Homo sapiens: one gene and its partners. The protein of the gene in region 4 purifies or fractionates together with the protein of the main gene of each other region. This does not show direct contact. Each region holds a gene or a part of one and is shown on either strand. Other genes may lie near its edges.

Region 1 (3,500 bases), on a different chromosome or scaffold from region 4:
AAGTGAAATAACCAAATTTAAATATTTAAGAAATTCATGGCCGGGCACGGTGGCTCACACCTGTAATCCCACACTTTGGGAGGCCGAGGCAGGTGATCACCTGAGGTCAGCAGTTTGAGACCAGCCTGGCCAACATGGTGAAACCCCATCTCTACTAAAAATACAAAAATTAGCCGAGCACGGCAGCGGGCGCCTGTAATCCCAGCTACTCGGGAGGCTGAGGCAGGAGATCACTTGAACCCAGGAGGCGGAGGTTGCAGTGAGCCAAAATTGCGCCACTGCACTCCAGCTGGGCCACAAGAGTGAAACTCCATCTCAAAAAAAAAAAAAAAGAAATTCACTAAAAAATTACACAAAGCCTCTGTGGATACTGATAGAAGTTCATATCCTAAAGACAAATGGATCTTTATGAATAGGCAAAAAGACAACAGAAATAAGATACTCAGATGAACTGATCTACAAAATACTTATTTCGAATTTTATTAGAGTGGATCTTATTAGACTGGATCAGATTCCTTGGGCTTGACAACCTTTTAAGTGAGCCAGGAGTTCTAAAATTACTACTGAGCTATTTAGCCAACTATAAAGATCAGCCTCAAATAGCGAAAGAAGTCCTCACAGCTCTACTGCACTTCCATATATGAGCCCAAGAGATTTTGTTTTTTTTTCAGGAAGTATCCAACTAGTTTGTAACAATGGAAAAACAGAAAACATGTAGGGAGTAATGGATTTACAAAATAGCACAATGGACTAAAAATTACGGTTAGTGTAGAACAGGATTTCTCAACCTTGCCACAACTGACATTTTATGCTGGATAATTCTTTGCTGTGGAGGTTATAGTATGTTTAGCTACATTTCTGGTATCTACCCACTAAATGCCAGCATCACCCTCCTAGTTATGACAACCAAAAATGTCTCCAGACATTGTCAAGTCTCCTGGGGGAAAAGCTCCCCATTGAGAACCACTGATGTAGAAATAAATGCTCTCATGGGGCATATCTTAAATTTTAAAAAGAGTTTTCCCCGCCACATAGAGAAAAAACTTTTAAATAAAGTCTAAGTAACCACAAGTGCTTGAGGAGTCTGTTCTCAAATAAATGCTCCCAATGTAACAAGTGAATTATTCTATCCATTTATAAAGGAAAATTTGTGTCTATCCGCTGTTACTAAGGCTGAGACTGCCCTGGATGGTCTTTAAAGGAAGCCCAAAATTAGCCAGAACGACTATCCACACTTTAAACTGAATAAAGCATATTTGTGGCTGGGCGTGGTGGCTCATGCCTGTCAATCTAAGCACTTTGGGAGGCTGAGGCAGGTGCATCACCTGAGGTCAGGAGTTCAAGACCAGCATGGCCAACATGATGAAACCCTGTCTCTACTAAAAATACAAAAATTAGCCAGGCGTGGTAGTGGGCAACTGTAATCCCAGCTACTCAGGAGGCTGAGGCACAAGAATCACTTGAACCCGGGAAGTGGAGGTTGCTGTGAGCTAAGATCTTGCCACTGCACTCCAGCCACGGCGACAGAGTGAGACTCCATCTTAAAAAAATAAAAATAAATAAAGCCATGTTTGCAGGCGGGGTGGAAGGTGAGTTAGGGAAGGATAGACTGGAATACAAAAGCTAAAGAAAAAATATCAGCATAAACTTTATAGATATACTATTCTGGTACTATTTATTACATTTTGTTCCAATACATTCATTTATCAAATCATCTCAAACCAAATTAGTTAAGAAACTAAAGTTGAGCCATACATACTTATTCTGTAACCATACTATGCTAGAATGTTTAATGTCCCCCTAAAAAGTCATGTCCATCCAGAACCTCAGAATGTGACTTTTACTGGAAATAGGGTCTCTGCAAGTTATTAGTTAAGATAAGGTCATACTGGATTAGGTGGGCCCTACCTAATCCAGTGACTTGCGTCCTTAGGAAAACATAATACACTGACACAGAGACAACTACAGGGGAGAAGCATGAATGTGAGGCAGAGACTGGAGTGGTATATCTACAAGTGAAGGAATGCCAAGGATTGCTGGCAACCACCACAAGCTAGAGAGAGGCAAGGAGGGATCTTCTACAGCCTTCAGAGAGAACACGACCCTGCTGACAACTTGATTTTGGACTTCCAGCCTCTAGAATTTTGAATGACTTAAGTTTCTGCTGTTCTAAGCCACCTTGTTTGTGGTACTTTGTTATGGCAGTTCTAAGAAGTTAATATGGGCATTGAGTAAATGAAGGGTATTTTGGGCATATAATTCCAATAGAGTGCTAACATATTGCAGTAATATACTGGTTCAATAACTGAAAAATTGTTGTAGTGCCTGTAGACTAATTTTTGTAAAGTCTTATTTCAAAAATGCCATTTTGTTATAAAGCACAGCGGGATACTAGCTCTGCAAAAATTAACACAATAAATTGGTATCACATAATCTTAACCTCACGACTTTATTGCATTTTCTTCTTTAAATAGCACAAAGAAGATTCAGGATGTTATACATTCAGTCCTCACTTAACATCACTGATAGGTTCTTGGAAACTGCCACTTTAAGTGAAATGGTGTATAACAAAACTATTTTTTTCTCATTAACATTGTAACGCTGAACGAAATGAGGGCCTACTGTATGTCATTTCGCTTAAAAGTGCAATTTCCTCTTTTTAAAAAATTTTTTGCTGTTCAAGAGTTTGATAACATATAGGCCGGGCTCACACCTGTAATCCCAACACTTTGGGGGGCCGAGGCAGTTGGATCATTTGAGGTCAGGAGTTCAAGACCAGCTTGGGCAACATGGAAACCCTGTCGCTACTGAAAATACAAAAATTAGCCGGGCGTGGTGGTGCACGTCTGTAGTCCCAGCTACTCAGGAGGCTGAGGCACAAGAATCGCTTTAACCCAGGAGGCAGAGGTTGCAGTAAGTCGAGATCACGCCACTGCACTCAAGCCTGGGTGAAGGAGTGACACTGTCTCAAAAAATACATATACATATAATATTATTTATATATATATATTTATGTTATATATAATATATATTTATATATATTATATATTACATATATATTACATATAATATATAATACATATTACATATATATTACATATAATATATAATACATATTACATATATTATATTATATATATATTTGTATGAGAGAGAGAGAGATAACATTGCAATTTCAAAGAAGCCATCAATGATGTTAAGTGAAGGTTCACTATATTTGTTGTCAAAAGGTATGTCTATTCTTTTTTCTCAGGCAAAAGCAACAGTATTCTGAAAAGGAAGTCACTTAATGAGAAATCGAGACAATAAGCTGTAAGAAGCATAGACATTCCTTCCAATGATACCCATTTCTTCCAAAATTACCAGTCATTTCTTACCTATATTATCCTTTTCTTTGCAAGAAATTGAATAGCAGCAAATTTCTCTATCCTGAATAGCAGACAGATTCCTATGAGAAGAATTAAAAGGATAAGTCTGTGCTTAGAACAGCTGTCATACTT
Region 2 (3,500 bases), on a different chromosome or scaffold from region 4:
ATGATATACTCTAATTTATTATTAAGAAATTTCCATTGGAAATTATTAAATTCCAGTGGAAAAATATAGTGGTTTGATTTCAGAATTACAATACTATGTATTTTAAAAGAAGGAAAAAATTTACAAAGATCATCCATCAATAAAATTCTGGCTGTAAAAATAATTACATTCTTAACAAAGGGTAGAGGGGTAGGACCTATACTTATATCACAAAACAGCATACTATCCTGCCTTTTCTATTCAAATACTAATGCCTTACTTTGGGACATTAACCAGGTTTAGACTGAGATTCCTTATCTTTTGCTTTCCAAAGAACAAGAGGTCTTTAGCCAGCCAATAATCAGTGAACTGAAGACCTCTTCCAAGTAGATCTTGGGGGAAAGTATGTCTGGATGAAAGTAGGTGACAGTCAGGAAAAAGGTACTGCTAACTACTCATCTGTCTGCCACCCAAGTATTTAGAATCTCTTTAAGCCAAAAACATAAGATTCCATTTAGACTTACTTGTTTGAATATTAGTATCAAAAACAGTCCCATCTTGTAGTGTTCCTGTATACCAGCAGTGAACAACATCTCCCTTTTTGGGAAAGTTGGTTTTATCTCCCTTTTTCAGAACAGATTTAGTATATTTTGGTGGACCCTAAAAACAAAAAACAACACACACACACAGAGTTATTAATTTGTGTCCTTTAAAAGAATGACAAACAATAGCCAACAATGACCAAAGTCAGTTTAAAGAGTTTGATGGATTTGGTAATAAATAAACAAACAAAACCCTCAGTATCTAATTTCAAGGCTGTGATGTGACTATTAGTAACTTACACATCTATAATTTAATTTCAAATAACTTCCAGCTTCTTTGGAAGCCTAAATTCTTCTAATAAGATTCTGTTAATAATTCACCAAACCATAACATGATTTCAGTTATTTCCTAAAGTTAAAAAAAATCATTACTATTTAATTCCTATGAAATCATAAGGCATTAAAATAAGGGATGGTGACTTCCCCCCCACAAAGATTTGAACTGTTTTAGCAGCAATAATTGATATTACTAGGTGTTTTTATAATAACCAATTAGAATGAATACAGTGATATTGCCTCTGTCCCCGATTTGGAAAATAAATTCACACAATGGATGAAATTACCTAAAGAAATTGCTATAACAGGCATATTTCCTAGAACAAAGTAGGATTATCAGGGTCTTCTACAAAAAAGGTTACATATTAATCTAATCAATAGCAATTCATATATGAGAGGAAAGCAGACAGAGGAACTGTCAAGAATCTTAGGGAGTTAATTAAAAAAAAGAAGAAGTGTACCGAATTTAAAAGTATCCTTACCTAAATCTATTTGGTTTCTGAATTCAGACCAAATTCAGAGGGATCTGCATTATCCAAATCTATATTTGGTTTCTAAATTTCATAAAATAAATAACAAAGGTGTGCTTGGATATCCAATAATTCATATCTATTAGTTCCTGAGTTTGAAAAGCAAGAGAAAAGTGTTTTCTTTATTCCTGACCTATTTCTTTTTTTTTCTGAGATGGAGTCTCACTCTGTCGCCAGGCTGGAGTGCAGCGGTGTGATCTCGGCTCACTGCAACAACCTCTGCCTCCTGGGTTCAAGTGATTCTCCTGCCTCAGTCTCCCGAGTAGCTGGGACTACAGGCGCCTGCCACCACGCCCAGCTCATTTTTTGGATTTTTAGTAGAGACACGGTTTCACCATGTTGGCCAGGATGGTCTCGAACTCCAGACCTCGTGATCCGCCCGCCTCGGCCTCCCAAAGTGTTGGGATTACAAGTGTGAGCCACCGCGCCTGGCCTATTCCTGATCTATTTCTAATTGGTCAAGTTATGCAAATTTTTATTCACTTTCATTTCCCTAGCTGAAGGTTTTATCCTTTTCCAAAACTTGTAAGTAAAAATATCTGTGCTGGGTGCGGTGGCTCACACCTGTAATCTCAGCACTTTGGGAGGCCAAGGTGGGTGGATCACTTGAGGTCAAGAGTTTGAGATCAGCCTGGCCAACATGGTAAAACCCCATCTCTATTAAAAATACAAAAATTAGGTGGATGTGGTGGCGTGTGCCTGTAATCCCAGCTACTCGGGAGGTAGAGTCAGGAGAATCACTTGAATCCAGGAGGCGGAGGTTGCAGTGAGCCAAGATGGCACCACTGGGCGACAGAGCAAGGCTCCATCTAAAAAAAAAAAAAAAAAAGTCTGATCTCCTTGCAAATAGTCTACCTCTTGGGCAAAAGATTCTCTCCCTGACCAAACCCTAGCTAGGGTCCTCTGAGACCTCTTCTTCACAAGCCTTCAACCTTGGACTATAAAGATTTGAACAAACACAAGTTTCAAATAGCTCAAGGCCTTATTCCTAGGAGGACCTGATCCCTCCTTAAAGTGTCCGCCTAAGAAAACTTAAGGCTGCCAAAAAAAATTTACTGTTTGTTCCAGCCAACGCCTCAAGATGAAGATAGGACCCCTGTCTCTGTCTCTGTGGGAGCCTGATTTTGATAAGCGCCAGTTGGCAAACTCAGATGGGTTTCATATGGACCAACCCCACTTCCTACTTTATGTAATTTTTCACTTCTCTAACTCTGCTTAAATCCCTCTCTACTCCTTTTTTTTTTTTTTTTTTTTTTTTTTTTTTCAGATGGAGTCTTGCTGTGTCACCTAGGCTGGAGTGCAGTGGCATGATCTCGGCTCATTGCAAGCTCTGCCTCCCGGGTTCACGCCATTCTCCCGCCTCAGCCTCCCAAAGTAGCTGGGAGTACAGGCGCCCGCCACCACACCCAGCTAATTTTTGTTTGTATTTTTAGTAGAGACGGGGTTTCACCATGTTAGCCAGGATGGTCTCCATCTCCTGACCTCGTGATCTGCCCGCCTCGGCCTCCCAAAGTGCTGGGATTACAAGCGTGAGCCACCAGGCCCAGCCCCCTCATTCTTTTAAAAGGCCCAGTTACCCCTCCACAAATCAGACTGGAGTTTAGCTCTTTCCCCTACTGTCAGTAGGCTGAATAAAATCTGTTTTCACCACTTTAATGTCCGATTGTGTTTATCTCTGACACCTTGAGTCAGTCCTCTACTCAACTGCTAGAGTGATATTAACAATTACTGCTTATAGTTTTGTGTCCAAAGGCCTAAACCATGCAGGATCTTAATCTATCCCTCCCTGAAGTTCCAGAATTCTATCAGCCTTTGAACTCTTGTCTTTTCCATGACCTTCTCAGTAGAGCAGGTGCATACAGCATAGAAATCTTTCAATCAGCTGGGCGCAGTTACTCACACCTGTAAACCCAGCACTTTGGGAGGCCCAGAAGGGTTGATCACCTGAGGTCAGGAGTTCGGGACCAACCTGGCCAACATGGTGAAACCCTCATCTCTACTAAAAATACAAAAATTAGCTGGGCATGGTGGCAGGCGCCTGAAATCCCAGCTATTTAGGGGGCTGAAGCAGGAGAATCACTTGAATCCAGGAGGCAGAGGTTGCAGTGAGCCA
Region 3 (3,500 bases), on a different chromosome or scaffold from region 4:
CCAGCCTTAAAGAATCATATTTCAGACCAGGCACGGTGGCTCACGCCTGTAATCCCAGTACTTTGGGAGGCCAGGGCAAGCGGATTGCCCACAATTATTTATATATATATCGGATTGCCCACAATTATTTATATATATGTGTGTGTGTGTGTGTGTGTGTGTATTTTTTGTTTGTTTTGTTTTGTTTTGTTTTTGAAACAAACTCTCACTCTGTCGCCAGGGTGAAGTGCAGTGGCGCGATCTCGGCTCACTAACCTCTGCCTCCTAGGTTCAAGCAATTCTCCTGTCTCAGCCTCCCAAGTAGCTGGGACTACAGGCGCACGCCACCATGCCCGGCTAATTTTTGTATTTTTAGTAGAGACAGGAATTTACCATGTTGGCCAGGATCGTCTAGATCTCCTGACCTGGTGATCTGCCTGCCTCAGCCTCCCGAAGTGCTGGGATTACAGGCGTGAGCCACCACGCCCGGCCAATTTATATTTTTTAATTAAAAAAATGTTTGTTTTACTTTTTTGTAGAAACAGGATCTCGCTATGTTGTCCAGGCTAGTCTTCAACTCCTGGGCTCAAATGATCATTCACCGCAGCTTCCCAAAGTGCTGGGCAGTGATTACAGGCATGGGCCACTATGCCCAGCCTGTTACCCACGATTATCACATTAAGTTACTTTTGGGTTATATATCAGCTAAAAGAGGCAGACCTTATTCCTACATCCAGACATTGCACAGAACATTACCTAAACTGCTTCCTTAAAGCCTATTTAGAGGCCAAGTGTGGTGGTTCATGCCTGTAATCCCTGCACTTTGGGAGGCCAAGGCGGGCAGATCGCCTAAGGTCAGGAGTTCGAGACCACCCAAGGTAACATGGTGAAACCCTGTCTCTACTAAAAGGCAAAAAATTAGCCAGGCATGGTGGCATGTGCCTGTAGTCCCAGCTACTCAGGAGGCTGACGCACAAGAATTGCTTGAGCCCAGGAGACGGGGGGTGCAGTGAGCTAAGATCTCACCACTGCACTCCTGCCTGGGCGGGAAAAAAAAAAAAAGCCTATTTAGAACGTCAGGTATCAGTCTTGATAGAAATAACAGAAGAAAAAAGGCAAAAGAGGATTGTGCACATATACTATATCAAAGCAACAAAATGTCTAGATAAAAGAAATTGCCAGCATCTCCCAGCTGTCACACTCAGGGCACCACAGAGATCAGGGTGGCAGAACTGCTCCTGGCTTATTCGTTCTCAAAGTCCAGCTCCCTTGTACAGAGATGGGCACAGTGCTGATGGCACTCACCACGCTTCTTTGTTCCCTCCTGGCATGAGCGATGGGCCATACCGGGCCCCTTCCTCTCCACCACTGACTCCGCTCCCCACAAATAAAATTCCCTTGGCCTTGAGGTCTCGGCACCGTCTCTGAAGGACAGAAAAATAATTTCATTATGCTTCCATGTTTCATTATGCTTCCATGTTTCATTATGCTACCCAAAAATGTTTCCCTTATAAATGAGAGGAAGTATAAGATAGGAATGGAGAGCCTACATTTACAGGAAATGACCCAAGGATCTAGGAATAACTGATGACTCAGGAAAGTTAATCCCCTATGTGTAGGAGTTAAAAAACAAAACAATACAACTATGGACATTCACGATACCTACCTCATCCCCAAAGTAAAATAATTAAGCCAAACACACATTGGCATTTTACTGGAAAAGACCTTGAATAAGACTCAACGAAGAGTAGGTGTAATACAACTTAATGCCATTCAGCACTTCAGAGCACACAGGAATTCCCTCAGCATTTGATACCATTAGAGGAGTGGTTCTAAACCAGTTATAGACTGACATATCATGGATTACTTGGAAGGGGAAGGGGAGGAGTTAAAACGTAATTCTCAGCCTGCTGTATCTGAGTTAGTCATCCTTTGAGTTGTATGTGTGACTGAGAATCTCACCCACCAAGTGTCTTTTTTTTTTTTTTTTTTTTCAGATGGAGTTTCACTCTGTCGCCCAGGCTGGAGTGCAGTGGCATGATCTCGGCTCACTGCAACTTCTGCCTCCCAGGTTCAAACAATTCTCCTGCCTCAGCCTCCCAAGTAGCTGGGACTACAGGCGCATGCCACCATGCCAGGCTAATTTTTTGTATTTTTAGTAGAGACGGGTTTTCGCCATGTTAGCCAGGATGGTCTTGATCTCTTGACCTCTTGGTCCACCTGCCTCCGTCTCCCAAAGTGCTGGGATTACAGGTGTGAGCCACCACACCCGGCCCTTCTGTTAAGTGTGTCTTAACAGAAAAAAAGGCTGAGAACTATTGTATCAGTAGTAATCTCAAAAAAATCAGTACCACAGGGCAGTTCACCCTACTGTCACATATGCGATGCTGACACTTTTTTCTAGAATGTTCTCGGAACCTGGAAGAATCTGGACTGAAGAACACTTACTGTGGTGTCCCTATATTCAGAATTTCCTCCGTCAATGATGATGTCACCAGTATCCAACAATGGTACCTGTAACCAGACACCAGCATTAAGATGGACCAAAAATGAAACATACCTTGGCAAATTAAAACAAACAAGAATTTATTCCAAATAAACATAGTCTAAAAAGAGTCTCGTTCTGTTGCCCAGCTTGGAATGCAGGAGTGCGAACATGGCTCACTGAAACCCTGAACTCCTGCAGTGGTGTGAACATGACTCACTGCAACTTTGAACTCCTTGAACCACAATGCCCAGCTAGTTTTAAAATTTTTTTTGTAGGCCAGGCGCGGTGGCTCACGCCTGTTATCCCAGCACTTTGGGAGGCCGAGGTGGGTGGATCATAAGGTCAGGAGATCAAGACCATCCTGGCTAACATGGTGAAACCTCGTCTCTACTAAAAATACGAAAAATTAGCCGGGCGTTGTGGCAGGCGCCTTGTAGTCCCAGCTACTCGGGAGGCTGAGGCAGGAGAATGGCGTGAACCCGGGAGGTGGAGCTTGCAGTGAGCTGAGATCGCAACACTGCACTCCAGCCTGGGGGACAGAGTGAGACCCCGTCTCAAAAAAAAAAAATTTTTTTTGAGATGGAGTCTCACCATGTCGCCCAGGCTGGTCTCAAACTCCTGGGCTAAAAGCCTCCTGGCTTGGCAGGAGGCCAACGCACCCAGCCTACTTAATCTTCAATAATCCTCTCTGTGGCCAGAGCTGCACACTATTTAAAAGTTTAGGGCTGACCAGGCTCAGTGGCTCACACCTGTAATCCCAACACTTTGGGAGGTTGAGGCAGGAGGATCGCTTGAGCCCAGGAATTTGAGACCAGCATGGACAGCATAGCAAGACCCCATTTCTATTTTTAAGTAAGTATACAGATTAAACACTGACTATAATGTGTCTAGAAGAGAGTGGGGATTCAGTAAATACATATCAAATGGTTTAGTGTATGAATGAATGATTTTATGACAACAGTTCGGAGGTCAGGAAGAGACAGAGCCTTGAACATGAATATCTACCTACAGCACACCAACCAGGCTGGGCTTT
Region 4 (3,500 bases):
CTTTGGGAGGCTGAAATGAGAGGATGACTTGAGGCCAGGAGTTTAAGACAAGCCCGCACAACATAGGGAGACTACATCGATACAAAAAATTTGAAAATTAGCTGGGCATGGTGGCATGTACCTGTAGTCCTAGCTACTCAGAAGGCTAGGATAGGAGGATCGTTTGAGCCCACAAGTTGGAGGGTATGTTGAGCTACAATCGTGCCACTGCACTCCAGTCTGGGCAACAGAGCTAGGCTGAAGCAGGCAGATCACCTGAGGTCAGGAGTTCGAGACCAGCCTGGTCAACACGGCGAAACCCTGTCTCTACTAAACATACAAAAATTAGCCAGGTGTGGTGGCACGCACCTATAATCCCAGCTACACACGGGAGGCTGAGGCAGGAGAATGGCTTGAACCCAGGAGGTAGAGGTTGCAGTGAGCTGAGATTGTGCTGCTGCACTCCAGCCTGGGCGAGGAAAGTAAGACTCCATCTCGAAAAAAAAAAAAAAAAAAAGTAGGCCAGGCGCGGTGGCTCACGCCTGTAATCCCAGTACTTTGGGGGGCCGAGGCGGGCGGATCACGAGGTCAGGAGATCAAGACCATCCTGGCTAACACAGTGAAACCCCGTCTCTACTAAAAATACAAAAAATTAGCCGGGCGAGCTGGCGGGCGCCTGTAGTCCCAGCTACTCGGGAGGCTGAGGCAGGAGAATGGCGTGAACCCCGGGGGGCGGAGCCTGCAGTGAGCCGAGATGGCGCCACTGCACTCCAACCTGGGCGACAGTGAGACTCCATCTCAAAAAAAAGAAAGTAAAAATAAAGACTAAAAATGACACCTTATTAAGAATGGAACAAAAGAAAAGAGAGCTAAGATAACACCCACGGCCACAGAGAGAGAGCAAGAAAAATCCACTGACGAATTCCTTGTCTTAAGCTCCCATTACACTCCTCCCTCCATTTTTAACTTTATGTAGACTGCTATCCATCTTATAACACACTCATTCTTCAGACACATCACAATGCACATGATCAGATTACAGCTTTCTTTACCTTAAGGATGTCTTCAACCACCACAAGCCCTTTCCAAATTCCCTACGTAGATAAAATTTGGCTTTTCTAGATATCCATCAGCCATCCAAATAAACCATCTCTTAAAATGGGCTACTAATAGAAATGACTCTTGCTCGTTCACTCTCTCTCTCACATGCAAGCAGAATTCAGCATTACTTTTACATGCAGAAAATTTTAAAATAATAGCCTAATTAGAGTTTTCTCCACAACATAATTTGAAAACCTGGAAATGGTAGTTTTAACGGAAAATTATGACAAAATCTTGAAAGAATAAATTTTAGCAAAACTACCACATCAATTCAGATAAATCCAGATTGGCTACATAAACAGTCTGTTGCATACTTTCAGCACAATGAAATCTAACCCTTTCAAGCAGTGATATCAGATTCCACATTCTCAACCTTCTCACCTTTCCGAAGGCAGATGCTCCAGCACAGATGTGTGTGTAATTGAACTGCTTCTGAGTTGCCAAAATCAATGGTGTCAGTTCCTCTGAGAATTAAACACATTTGATAAAAAAATATTTTGAAATACTTTCATATTCATATATTCAAGCGTAATTTAGACACTACATTTTTTTCTACTGGAAAACCTCACCTGGAAGTAGGCCTTTGTACACATCATGCTGAGCCACCAGAACTTTTGCTATGCCTGCTACTTTACAGAGATCTTGTGCCACCTATGATTAAAAGATAAGTTCCTAATTATCCATCTATCAGAAATATACAAATAAAGCCACCACTATAAATATCAACAGATCATAAAATCTTAATGGCCAACTGTAAAAATTATTCTTATTAGCAAAAGGGCCAGTTAAGAATTAAAATATATTCCGGCCGGGCGCAGTGGCTCAAGCCTGTAATCCCAGCACTCTGAGAGGCTGAGGCAGGCAGATCACCGGAGTCAAGAGTTCAAGACCAGCCTGGCCAACATGGTGAAACCCCATCTCTACTAAAAATACAAAAATTAGCTAGGCATGGTGGCGGGCACCTGTAATCCCAGCTACTTGGGAGACTGAGGCAAGAGAATGGCTTGAACCCAGGAGGCGGAGGTTACAGTGAGCCAAGATCACACCACTTCACTCCAGACTGGGCGAAAGAGTGAAACTCCATCTCAAACAAACAAAGAATTAAAATATTAAAATACATTCCTTAACAAAGAAAATCTAATGCCAATAGATCTTACTACTGACTGACCTTACACTGTCCAACTACCAAGCATTTCAACAAAAATTCCTGCCTTGAAAAAGAAAAGTGCTAATTGACAAACCAAAATCAACATGGCTCTTTATTCAAATTTTGTTATAAATTGTGCTTTTTACTTTTGGTTCAATCCAAGTGTAAGTTCAATGTCCTGGAAATGGTGAAAATGAAGTTCTCTAGTAACATCCCATTGTCAACCACTGAGTTCCTGCCCACATACACATATTTATCTATGACAAAGCAAAATATTTCCTATTTTAATTCTTCATTTTTCCTGTTTGGAATTAGAATGGGGTTCTGAGAAAGCTTTTTGATGATTCAGATTTTCTATATTCAGAAGGCAATTAGATTTCCCCTTTTTAAGTATCTTTATTACCTCATGGCTGGTTTCCACTTTAGCTAAGTCATATCAGTCATACTATCGTCTTCTGTCTCCTTGTTTACCTCCAAACTGATTCATTGATTCACTGATGAGTAGGATTAAAAGGCTGTGCCTTGTGCCACCCTCATATGAACTGTTAGCTTGCAACAATATTCACTGAAGAAAGGATGCAGTGCAAGAATACATTCTCTGCTAAACCAAGTGTTCACCGGCATACCATTTGTACTACAGAGGCCCTTTATTATGGATGCAGCTGCATTTAGCTTCTCAAACTTTAAGAGAATTTCCAATTAAGAAACTCAGTTAATTGCAATGTAGCTGCATAGCAGCATGGGATAGAAAATGGGGCAGAATTTTCCCATTGAAACTATCTTGTTTTTACTGGCAAAACGGCTGGCATTATACAGAAGAATAACTTGCTGTTTATGACAAGTAGCTGAATAAAATGGTATAAAACCGAACTCTATTAAACGATCTCTTCATACAGGTACTGGTTGTTTTCTTTAAAATTAGAACATGACAGGTTAGGATTGTAACTGAGTACAGAAGACGATTTCTATTTTGATTTTTCTCAAAGTAGTATAAAGTATCAAAGTCTTTTTAAAGTAATATTACAATAATTATTTTAAATCACAGCAAAACAAACAACAAATCACAAATTCCTATATATCCAAAAACAGGGAAACCAAAAAGATAGCTTAGCCATCATATACTGTGGCTAATACAGACATACAAATAGATAGCTTAGCCATCACACATCACACATTGTGGCTGTATCAACTATGTAAGATCCTACAGTTGTTAGCAGGAATTGGGTAAAGAAATCCACATAACTAATCATAAACCCACCAGAATATGTTCTTT
Region 5 (3,500 bases), on a different chromosome or scaffold from region 4:
GTTGATTTTTTAAAAATTTTTTTGCAAAGATGGGGTATCACTATGTTTCCCAGGCTGGTCTCAAACTCCTGGGCTCAAGTGATCCTCCCACCTGAGCCTCTCGAAGTGCTATGATTACAGGATTGAGTCATCATGCCTGGCTTCACTACTACAGTCTTGAAAAACAGGCAGGGAAAAGGGTATAATCATCTCTATTTAATAGATGAGGCAACTGAAACTCTTTAACTGAAAGGTTACTTTAACTGAGAGGTTGAAGTAACTTGTCCAAAGAAACCCAATGACTAAGTAATTCCTACGCATTGAGCTTCATTTACGCTATCTCACTCACTTAGTCCTTGCCACAAACCATACAAGGTATGGCTTAACATCCACACACTTCTTATTTTATTTTTATTTATTTTTGAGATGGAGTCTCACTCTGTCACCCAGGCTGGAGTGCAGTGTTGCAATCTCAGCTCACTGCAGCCTCCACCTCCCGGGTTCAAGCAATTCTTGTGTCTCAGCCTCCTGAGTAGCTGCGACTACAGGCATGTGCCAACACGCCAGGCTAATTTTTGTATTTTTAGTAGAGACAGGGTTTCGCCATGTTGGTCAGGCTGGTCTCAAACTTCTGACCTCAGGTAATCCGCCCCCACCTCGGCCTCTCAAAGTGCTGGGAATACAGGCGTGAGCCACCGTACCCAGCCCACTTCTCATTTTAAAGATGAGAAAACTTAGGCTCAAGAAGGTGAAACTGCTCACATAGAAACATGCAAAAATTAGAGAAGCAACAATTTAAACTTTTCGACCCTGACCTACTCTGCTCCCCAGCCATTCCATTTCTTCAGTGGGCCCTTTATTGATATCTGTGAGATATTAGAGAAAGTGTCTCAGAGAGGCTGGAATTTTCTGTCTGGGTGCAGTGTCATATTTATGTGAACAGTGGCAACCATAAATGGCCACACAATGACTCTATTTAGGTTCCCTCAGGTAGAAAGTACTACGGCAAAAAAAAAAAAAAAAAAAGTCGAAGCTAATCTTCTCACTTGATCTCTGTGACCAAAACATACAAACCTATTAATTCTAATCAACACAAAATAGAAATTAATGAACTTGTTTCCAAACAAAACAAGGTTTCAAAGTTACCCAAAATATTCTTCCTGCCAAGCATAAATGCAGCCAGAAAATCCCCAGAGATAAATTTAGCACATTCATGTTGCAGTCTTTAGAGTTTCAAGAATGGATTTTTCAATGTCATTTTAAAGACTCAGCAGAACAGAGTTTGAAACCCAGTTATCCTACTTATTAGCATGTCCCTTGGCAATTAAACATGCAAACCCTTTAATTTATCCAAGCCTTTGCTTCCTCATTCATAAGAAGGGAATAATAATGCCTATCCTTTCCACTTCACTGTTGTAAACATCAAACAATACATATAAAAACTATGTATGAAGTGAAAATCATGACGACTATTAACTATTACTGTTCCCAACCTTAGCCCATCAGTACTGCTTCTAGTTTGAGCCACAGTACATTACAAAGCTCTCACTTTATATATGTATTCTCCCTATTTCTGTCATCCCCTAGAACAAACAGCCATTCCTATGGTCACCAACCATAATTACCAAGCTACTGTCTATCTTTCCTGGCACTATTTACCAGGGACAACCAAGGAGATTGAAAATGCTTTTCCTATTATTTTACTATGGCCCTGTAGTGGGTAAAGTCAAAGGACTTCCAAGAAGCAAACATCAGAAAGAGAATAGTGTCTACCTCATCTAATTGCCTTGTCATTATTAAACAGAGAATTCAGACTTTTCAGAGATGAAGAAAATATGGGAGCTATTAATCAGTATAGAACAAGAACTCTTGAGTATTACTTCTTCAGGTAGTGTTGTTAAGTTGTTCAACAATTCTCTGGAACTGGTGAAACAGAAGGGGAAATGTCAGTTGACAAAACAGCAAAACTCAGCCGTCAGACATCAACTGCAGAAAGAAGAGGCAAATACACTTACCAAGCAATGGAGGGAAAACATGCAAAATATTAAGTCAAGTTTGGAAGCAACTAGCTTTTGGGGAGAATGATACATTTAAGATCTTGGATATGTTTAATGTATTTTTTAAAGTTACTATAATTCTTTTTTGAGCTCCCTTTAGTCTTTTTTGGACCAAGGCCATTATATAAATACATAAGTAAACTCTCTTTCATCTATTTAAAAAAAAAAAAAAAAGAATAGTGTCTAAATTAACCACTTCTACTTCCATCTGTCTCTGAAGGATGATTTCCTACTTGTGACATGTCCCTAACAGAAGCAATGCTCAGATAAATTAACTAAAGCCAAGTCTTTATTGAAAAGATTACTTAATAGCAATAGCTGTGTATCCCCAAAGCCAATGAGACTTTGTTTTCCAAATCATTTATTAATTTTTCTAAATACCAAAATTTAACTCTTCTAGAAGCATTGCCATTTTCCATCACCTTGAAGAAATAAGTGCAGTTTCTAATAATTTGGATCTAACCACACTAGTCTTATTATTCCATACTTGTTAAGAAAAATTTTGTGATGAGCTAGACAATTCTGTCATTTACCACAGCTACATAAAGCCAGTTTCTTTAACTCATGAAACAATGATGGTAGCTGATCATAATTCTTTTAAATTTAGGAATCTTTCTCTTAGTGGTACTAGTAGATCTAAAAGTTCTAGAGAAATGATGATGATGATGATCAGGATGATAAAAATAAAAGTGGCAGGGCACAGTGGCTCATGACTGTAATCCCAGTACTTTGGGAGGCCAAGGCAGGCAGATCACGAGGTCAAGAGATCGAGACCATCCTGGCTAACATGGTGAAACCCCGTCTCTACTAAAAATACAAAAAATTAGCCAGGTGTGGTGGCACGCGCCTGTAGTCCCAGCTACTCAGGAGCCTAAGGTAGGAGAATCGCTTGAACCCGGGAGGTGGAGATTGCAGTGAGCCAAGATCGTGCGACTGCACTCCAGCCTGGGCGACAGAGCAAGACACTGCTCAAAAACAAAAACAAAACAAAACAAAAAAAGCAACAAAAAAACCCCACATTATTTCATTCAATAAATAGGAACTATATGCTGATTACATGCCAGGCACTAGGTATAAAATGATGAACAAGACTTAACTATTTCTTTAAGGAACTACCAGTCTGCCAATTAAACAGTCAAATCAGGCCAGGTACAGTGTGGCTCATGCCTATAATCCCAGCACTCTGAGACGGTATGGTGGCATGCAACTGTAGTCCCAACTACTCGGGAGGCTGAGGTGGGAGGATCATTTGCGCCTAGGAAGCAGAGGTTGCAGTGAGCCAAGATCACGCCACTGTACTTCAGCCTGGGTGACAGAGCAAGACTGTGCCAGAAGAAAAAAAAAAAAATCCAGGCAAATTCAACATAATGAGATAAGTACTCTGACAGGAATAATGATAGAATGCTACCCTATCCACATTCGTCAGGCAGGGAGTTTCAAATGGTTGCTTAGAAGACATGACAT
Region 6 (3,500 bases), on a different chromosome or scaffold from region 4:
ATTGTTTTAAGTCCCTAGCACAAGGCCTCACATACAGCAAGGACACAATAAATGCTCACTAAATTCACTGTTTTTTTTTTCCTAGCCCATTTTAGGATGCAGCAAATAATACAGGAAGAATAAATTTGAATTCGAATTTACTTGAAGCCCTGGAACGCTCTATAAAAGTCATTCTGCTCATTTCCCAGACTGCTCCAGCGGCCTGTTCCAGTAATATTTGTCTTCTTTAAAAGTCCTTTTTTTTTCTGCCTAATTGATCTCCCCAGTGTCAGTGCACATTCACCACAGATTAATCTTACACGTCCTCCTCGCTCATTACATCACTTCCCTGCACAAAACCTTCCAATTCCATTGAATATAGGCTAAAATCCAGCTCCACATTCAATGCCCATATGTTACCTATTTCATTTTTGAATCTTTCTTTCTTACAAAACTCTTCATTGTACACCTGTTAGGGTCTAGATTTTTTATTCTCCCAGGAATAAGACAGTCTGAGATTTCTGCACAGGAAGGAAGTTGGACTGTCTGCCTTCTCAGACATCTTGCTGAGTGCAGCAGCAACATGCAGTGGCTGGAAGCATGGACTCAGGATGCCTGGGTTTGAGTCCCAACTCCCCATGGGGTCGCGCATTTCCTTGAATGAGTCACAGTTGTCTCTGCGTCTCACTTTCCTCATCTGCAGCCACCTCATGTGGTTGTTGAGAAGATTCAATGAAATAATACAAGATAATCAATAACACAAAATGTATTAGCTATTTTTGTTACTAGGACTAGGAGGTGCTCTATTTCTGCCCACACTTCTGGAACACTCGCTGTTCTCTCCTGGCCCCCACTTGGTGCCTTCCAGTCCCCTTACTGAGGCTGCCCATCCCCCGCCTCCTGGCGACCCTCCAGACTCACCCATCCCTTAAGGCAAATCAAACCTCACGTCTCTGGGCAGCCTTTGCAAACCACCTTCGCTTGGGGTGAGCTCTTAATTCTCCAAGTTTCTGTAGCACTTTTGTGCCATTTTGGGGGCATCTATTAGTTAATGAGGCAAAAATTTTTGAAAAACTACATACAAACACTTTCTGGAGTTAGAATTTGTGAAGTCAAATGAGGTGACACACCTGGTCTCGGCCTGTGGAGAAGATAAGAACACAGCCTCCCTGCTCCCCACTGCCATCTGCATGCTTGGGGCCACTCAGCTGGCGTGACATGCTCTTCTGTGTGTTCAGCCCTGCTGCCAGGAACCATCACGGCAGCTTCTTAGCGTGGGCTGCATGTGAGCTTGCACTCAGAGGAGAGTAAGATTTCAACAGACGTCCCGGGATGGGGAACTGGAGGCAAGGCAAAGAAAGATGTGGCCCAAGAAATGGAGCACATTTCCATCTAACTGGAAGGCAGGATACACAGAAAGGAGAAGACATGAAAGAAAAGGCTGAGTGAGTTGGCCAGGATCACTTTGGGAAAGGCTTGAAATACCTAAGAAATCGGGACTGTATTCAGGAAGTGACGGAGAGCTCCCGAGGGTTTCTAAGTAAGAAAGCAACCCTCAAACCAGTTGTATCTCTCGAAGCAGAAAGGACGAGCTATGAGGGAATGCTGTGGTCAGGAGACAAGTCAGCAGCCTTTGGCCACCAGCTAGCATAGCCCACTGGACAGGGCTGGTGGGCAGGGAGAGGATGAAGGGTGCATGAGGAAGATGCCTGATGATGCCTCAGTAAAGAGAGGTGGAGGTGGGGGGTGGGGAAAGAGCCTGGCCCCTGGGGAAAGGACTTAATGCAAAGTTCACAGTCTGCCAGATGGAAAGATACTGAATTTTCAGACATGCATTTGAGACACAAGGGAAAAAATCCAGATGGAGCTGTGAAGCAAGCCATCTGACACGTGGCACTGGCACTTAGGGGAAGGACTTGGGCTCCATGGAGCTACGTTTTGTTGAAGCTATGGACAGAGATGTGGTCACTGGAAGGTAGACTGTAATAAGACAAAACCTTGCTCCAATGTGTTAACAGGAAAGCGGAACCTTGGGAGCACCCCCATCTAGCCGGTGGAAGGAATGTGGTGCAGGGCAGCTGTAGGGAAGAGAGGGGATCAGTCATCTGTGTCTATGAGTGCTCTGTGGGGTACAGGGCTTCTTCCACACAGCCCATTTGTTCCTCACCACAACCCAGTGTGGGCAGGGTTGGCATTATCATCTCCATTTTACAGATGGAGAAATGGAGGCTCCAAGGCTAAGGAGCTTGGACCAAGATCTCCCAGCTGGTTAGCAAGAGCCAGCACTAGAGCCTGGTCTGTACAAATCTGTCGTCATGATGGTTCTATTTCATGGTGTTTATACCCAGACTGGCCCATCATGGCCGAGGTCCACCAAAGACTAGGCAAAGCTCAAAGGCTCAGTGCAGATGTCAATAACTGGCAAGGCTGGGAAGAGGCAGATGGAGACAGGGCTCATTCTGATGGCTGCTCTGAGATGGGGGCAGCGTGGCTGCTAATGAGGATGTCAATTAGCAGGAGTAGATGGGACAGACGCGATGAGTCACCAGACGTCAATGACAGCACAAAAGAGGCAGCTGTAAGTTTGGAAATGGCAAAGGCTGTGCATCCCTGACCTGGCATGCCTTCCTTCCTAATGATGTCAATCAGGTTGAACACCTCCCAAAAAATCTGTAGAGGAGGAAGATTTTTGACCCTTGCCAGAGACAGACCCAGCCAAAAAGGCTCAAAGATGACAGAGATGAAGAAGTGACAGAAGGCCCTAATCCAGCTGTGTTTCAGCAGCGAGGAGGGGGTGAACTTTGATTTCTGGGGAATAGCAGCCCATTTATTAGTCCCACCTCTTTTCTGTGTGTGAAGACAAAAAGCAATTGACACCTGTGGTCACTCAACCCCTCCAGCCAGGTCCCCAGTTTCTGGGGAGCTGCCCCTGCAGAGTAAGCCCTAGCCTCTAGGGGCCTCCTGCGTGGGTGATGCGTGCAGCGGCCAGGGCCCTTCCCTCTTTATGTAGCTGGGAAAGGGCTAGAACTTTCCAGAAGATGCTTTTCTAGGAAATGAAAGGGAAAATAGAACAAAACAAACCCCAAGCAAGAAAATATACAAACAAAGAAATGAGTTTACACAACCCAGATGTCTTAGGCCAAGGCAGCCAACACCTGGTCACAGCTTGACTTGCCCAGCTTTGCAGACAACGCCCCTGACTTTTCTGTAATGTTGAGGGAACTGGAATGGGTAACTTTTATATTTCTAGACCTGGGCCCAGGCAGAAGAAGCTGGAATTCATTTTTTCTTTTTTTTAGAGACAGGATCTCACTCTGTTGTGCAGAGCATGGTGCAATCATAGCTCCCTGCAGCCTTAAACTCCTGGGCTCAAGTGATCCTCCCACCTCAGCCTCCCAAGTAGCTAGCATTGACTACAGGTGTATGCCATTGCACCCAGCTAATTTTTAAAATTTTTTGTAGACATGGGGTTTCACTATGTTGCCCAGGCTGGTATCTAGCTCCTGGCCTCAAGTGATCCT
Region 7 (3,500 bases), on a different chromosome or scaffold from region 4:
TGGCCAGGAGAGCAGGGTCATATGTACATAAAGCCACCTCTCCTTTAAAACCCAAGCAGGGAAGTAAAGGTGGGCATCTTCAGCATTACTTTTAAATCTCATTTTCTTTCTAGATAGTACAATGAATCTCTTGTGACTACTTTTTAAAGTAGTAGCTTTATGCATGAAAGTAAAGCTTCATGTCTAAAAGCTTTACTTTTAAAGCTCATTTTCTCTGACGTGTCCTACAAGTCCTTTCACGATCCAGTTCCTGTTTACCTCTCCAAAGTTACCCCTTTTATCTCTTCTCCTGACACTTTATATTCCAGCCATACTAAAAAAAGTTTTCCAGAACTGGCACCAGACCAAAGAGATTTTTCTTTAAGAACCACTTAGGCTTATTTTTTTTGGTTGGTATTGATGACTTCGTGTCTTGAAGCTGCATGCCTTTAACTTGTTACTACTTTGTAAAACTCTCCCACATCGTTCTTGAAAATGTCATGTTCCCTTTACATTATCTTTCACAGCAGCCGCCTCTACTATTCTTTCACCCTCATCTTACTAAGCAGATGACTCACTCTTCCTGTCCCATTGGCTTCCCTTTATAATGTCTCCTAAAACAGAATGTTTTCCCTATAACTCTCTCTTAGGGCATTTCTTTAACCATCTTTTTCTCTAAAGATAATCCTTTATATACTGACCGTACTACCAAGGTGACAATGTTATAGGCATATAACCAGACATGCTATTCTTGGTGTCTAAACACACATCTTTTAGTCATTTCTTTGTTAATACTAATTGTTTGAACTAATCCACAGTGTTGATGCTAAGTAAGGTACAAACAGTTCTTCTACAGGATTGCTATTTATTCAGTCATCTGAGTTATTGCCAACACAAAGTAGATGCTCACTGCTTGATGCTATGGCTATAAGGACAAGAATTAAGTAGTTCCCATGTGTCAGACTCTGTTCTGGGTGTTTTATATTAACTGATTTTTATCTTATGAGGTGGGAACAATTACTATATCCATTTTACCAATGATGAACGGAGAGGCAAAGTAATAAGTAACTTGCTCAGAGTCACAAGAAAGTAGCAGAGCCAGTCATAAAACTAGGCAGTGAACTAACAGTGATCAAAACACAGCCCTCACCCTCAAGGAGCTCACAGCCCCAGTGCAGTACACAGGCAAGAAGGCAGGCAAAAGTTCACACGGATGGGAACTCAGAAGCTAGAGCACTAACCAGCCTGCCAAGCTCCTGAAAAGGCAGCAGTGTCGGAGCAGACATGTGAAAAATGACGTGGAGATAACCAGGCACAGTGAGAAGTGGGAAGAATCTGACAGCAAGAATTGAAAGAGAAAGGGGCGAATTTGGGAATTCTGAGAAAAGTTTAGTATGGCTGGCATATATAAAGTGTCAGGAGACGAGTGAAAAGGGATAATTTTGGAGGTAAACAGGAACTGGATCGTGAAAGGACTTGCAGGACACTCAGAGCTGACAAGCATATTCCTGTTTTGTTTTTCTCTCCCAAATCACTGAACCATAAATGGCAGCACTGATTTCGCTTTAAAAAACAGGTTTTTCAAATAGGAGCTGAAATTTCTTATGCACAAACCTTAGAAAACAACTCTAAGATCATCTTCTGGCAAGCTTTCTCATAGGGGTCATCCGGCAACAGCTTCTTCCCTGGGTATGCTTCATCCAGGTACTCACAGGTGATGGCAGACTCGTAGATCAGCTGACCCTGACTGTTTTCCAGAACTGGCACCAGACCAAAGGGATTTTTCTTAAAGAACCACTCAGGCTTATTTTTCAGGTTGATATTGATGACTTCATGCCTGAAAGACACATAGGAGACTATGAAGAGAAGGAAACAACTTTTGTGCTTTTGGATAAATTCTCACTGGCTTTGCCATCCACTTAGCTGATCAGACCCCAAATTTAGGAGTCTGCCTAGATTCCTTCCATTCTAGTTTTTGATTTTATGAATCTGACTACTTTTGATACACCTTTTAAGAACAATCATGCAGTATTTGTCTTTCTGTGTCTGGCTTATTTTACTTAGCATAATGTCCGCAATGTCCATCCATGTTGTCACATATTGCAGAATTTCCTTCCTTTTTAGGTGGAATAGCATTAACACATTTTCTTTATCCATTCATCTGCTGATGGACATTGACATTATGCTGTTGTGAACAGTGCTGCAGTCTACGTGAGAGTGCTAATATCTCTTTGAGAACTTGATTTCATTTAATTTGGATATATACCCAGTAGTGAGATTGCTGAATCACATGGTAGTTCTAGTTTTAATTTTTTGAAGAACATCTATACTGTTTTCCATAGCAGCTGTACCATTTTACATTCCCGCCAACAGTGTGCAAAGGTTCTGATTTCTACACATCCTTGCTAACACTTGTCTTTTTTCATTATAGTCATCTTGACAAGTGTGAGGTTATTATGTGATTTTGATTTGCATTTTCCTGATGATTAGTGATAAGAACTTTTTCATATATGTGTTGCCCATTTTTATATCCTCTTTGAAGAAATGTCTATTTTTTTAATTTTTAATTTTTTTTGACACTCTGTCTCCCAGACTGGAGTACAGTGGCTTGATCGCAGCTCACTGCAGCCTCGACCTCCTGGGCTAAAGCGATCCTCCTACCTCCCGAGTAGTTGGGACCACAGGCGTGCACCATCACACCCAGCTAATTTCTTTGTAGAGACAGGATTCTGCCATGTTGCCAAGGCTGGTCTTGAACTCCTGGGCTCAAGTGAACTGTCTGCCTCGGGGTTATAGGCGTGAGCTACCATGCCCAGCCTGAGAAGTGTCTATGTAAGATCTTAGCCCATGTTAAAATCAGGTTTTTTTGTTGTTGAGTTGTAGAGATTCCTTATGTATTTTGGAGATTAACCCCTTACCAGGTATGTGGTTTGCAAGTACTTTCTCCTATTCCATAGGTTGCCTTTTTGCTCTGTTAATCGTTTCCTTTGCTGTGTGGAAGCTTGTTTGCTGTAGTCTCATGTGTTTATTTTTGGTCTTGTTGCCTGGTCTTTGGTGTCATGTCCAGGAAATCATTGCCAAGGCCAGTGTCATGAAGCTTTTCCCCTATGTTTTCTTTTACACGTTGGCGGTTTTTATATTCCTTGAATTTGCCAAATGTGTTTCCACCTTAGAGTCTTTGCACTTGATGGTCCTCTGCCTCCTCTGCCTGCCTTTTCCCAGGTCTTCCCAGGTCAAACACACATCCCCAGGCCCTCCCTGACCATAGCTCTGAAGTTGCTGAGCAGCTTCTATTACATGATTATCATGTTTTACTTTCTTCATTGAACTGATAATATGTATCTGAAATTACTTTGCTCACTTATTTACAAGTTTGTTATCTTCCTAGAATGTAAGCTTCACGAAAGGTGGGATCTTGTGTATCTGTTCATAGTAATAAACAAACATGTAAATGAGCAAAATGCTATATAGATATAAATGCTCTGAAGAAAATAAAAAGTTTCAAATAAGGACTCAGTAAA

Evidence for each region.
Region 1: the proteins of ETFA (region 4) and ARL8B fractionate together in Homo sapiens (co-fractionation; one large-scale study listed by BioGRID). This does not show direct contact.
Region 2: the proteins of ETFA (region 4) and FKBP3 fractionate together in Homo sapiens (co-fractionation; one large-scale study listed by BioGRID). This does not show direct contact.
Region 3: the proteins of ETFA (region 4) and PGD fractionate together in Homo sapiens (co-fractionation; one large-scale study listed by BioGRID). This does not show direct contact.
Region 5: the proteins of ETFA (region 4) and ZMPSTE24 fractionate together in Homo sapiens (co-fractionation; one large-scale study listed by BioGRID). This does not show direct contact.
Region 6: the proteins of ETFA (region 4) and PDIA5 fractionate together in Homo sapiens (co-fractionation; one large-scale study listed by BioGRID). This does not show direct contact.
Region 7: the proteins of ETFA (region 4) and GSTO1 fractionate together in Homo sapiens (co-fractionation; one large-scale study listed by BioGRID). This does not show direct contact.

Annotation. Positions count from the first base shown.
Region 1 is NC_000003.12:5,174,292-5,177,791, reverse strand, and holds part of ARL8B (ADP-ribosylation factor-like protein 8B), read right to left. Parts: intron 3,449-3,500; coding exon 3,378-3,448; intron 1-3,377. UniProt on the Homo sapiens protein: Small GTPase which cycles between active GTP-bound and inactive GDP-bound states.
Region 2 is NC_000014.9:45,120,982-45,124,481, forward strand, and holds part of FKBP3 (peptidyl-prolyl cis-trans isomerase FKBP3), read right to left. Parts: intron 640-3,500; coding exon 504-639; intron 1-503. UniProt on the Homo sapiens protein: FK506- and rapamycin-binding proteins (FKBPs) constitute a family of receptors for the two immunosuppressants which inhibit T-cell proliferation by arresting two distinct cytoplasmic signal transmission pathways. PPIases accelerate the folding of proteins.
Region 3 is NC_000001.11:10,402,064-10,405,563, reverse strand, and holds part of PGD (6-phosphogluconate dehydrogenase, decarboxylating), read right to left. Parts: intron 2,494-3,500; coding exon 2,428-2,493; intron 1,404-2,427; coding exon 1,285-1,403; intron 1-1,284. UniProt on the Homo sapiens protein: Catalyzes the oxidative decarboxylation of 6-phosphogluconate to ribulose 5-phosphate and CO(2), with concomitant reduction of NADP to NADPH.
Region 4 is NC_000015.10:76,290,970-76,294,469, forward strand, and holds part of ETFA (electron transfer flavoprotein subunit alpha, mitochondrial), read right to left. Parts: intron 1,732-3,500; coding exon 1,650-1,731; intron 1,545-1,649; coding exon 1,462-1,544; intron 1-1,461. UniProt on the Homo sapiens protein: Heterodimeric electron transfer flavoprotein that accepts electrons from several mitochondrial dehydrogenases, including acyl-CoA dehydrogenases, glutaryl-CoA and sarcosine dehydrogenase.
Region 5 is NC_000001.11:40,261,236-40,264,735, reverse strand, and holds part of ZMPSTE24 (CAAX prenyl protease 1 homolog), read right to left. Parts: intron 1,898-3,500; exon of another isoform or gene 1,774-1,897; coding exon of another isoform or gene 1,753-1,773; intron 1-1,752. UniProt on the Homo sapiens protein: Transmembrane metalloprotease whose catalytic activity is critical for processing lamin A/LMNA on the inner nuclear membrane and clearing clogged translocons on the endoplasmic reticulum.
Region 6 is NC_000003.12:123,119,025-123,122,524, reverse strand, and holds part of PDIA5 (protein disulfide-isomerase A5 precursor), read right to left. Parts: intron 1-3,500.
Region 7 is NC_000010.11:104,257,892-104,261,391, reverse strand, and holds part of GSTO1 (glutathione S-transferase omega-1), read right to left. Parts: intron 1,817-3,500; coding exon 1,594-1,816; intron 1-1,593. UniProt on the Homo sapiens protein: Exhibits glutathione-dependent thiol transferase and dehydroascorbate reductase activities. Has S-(phenacyl)glutathione reductase activity. Also has glutathione S-transferase activity.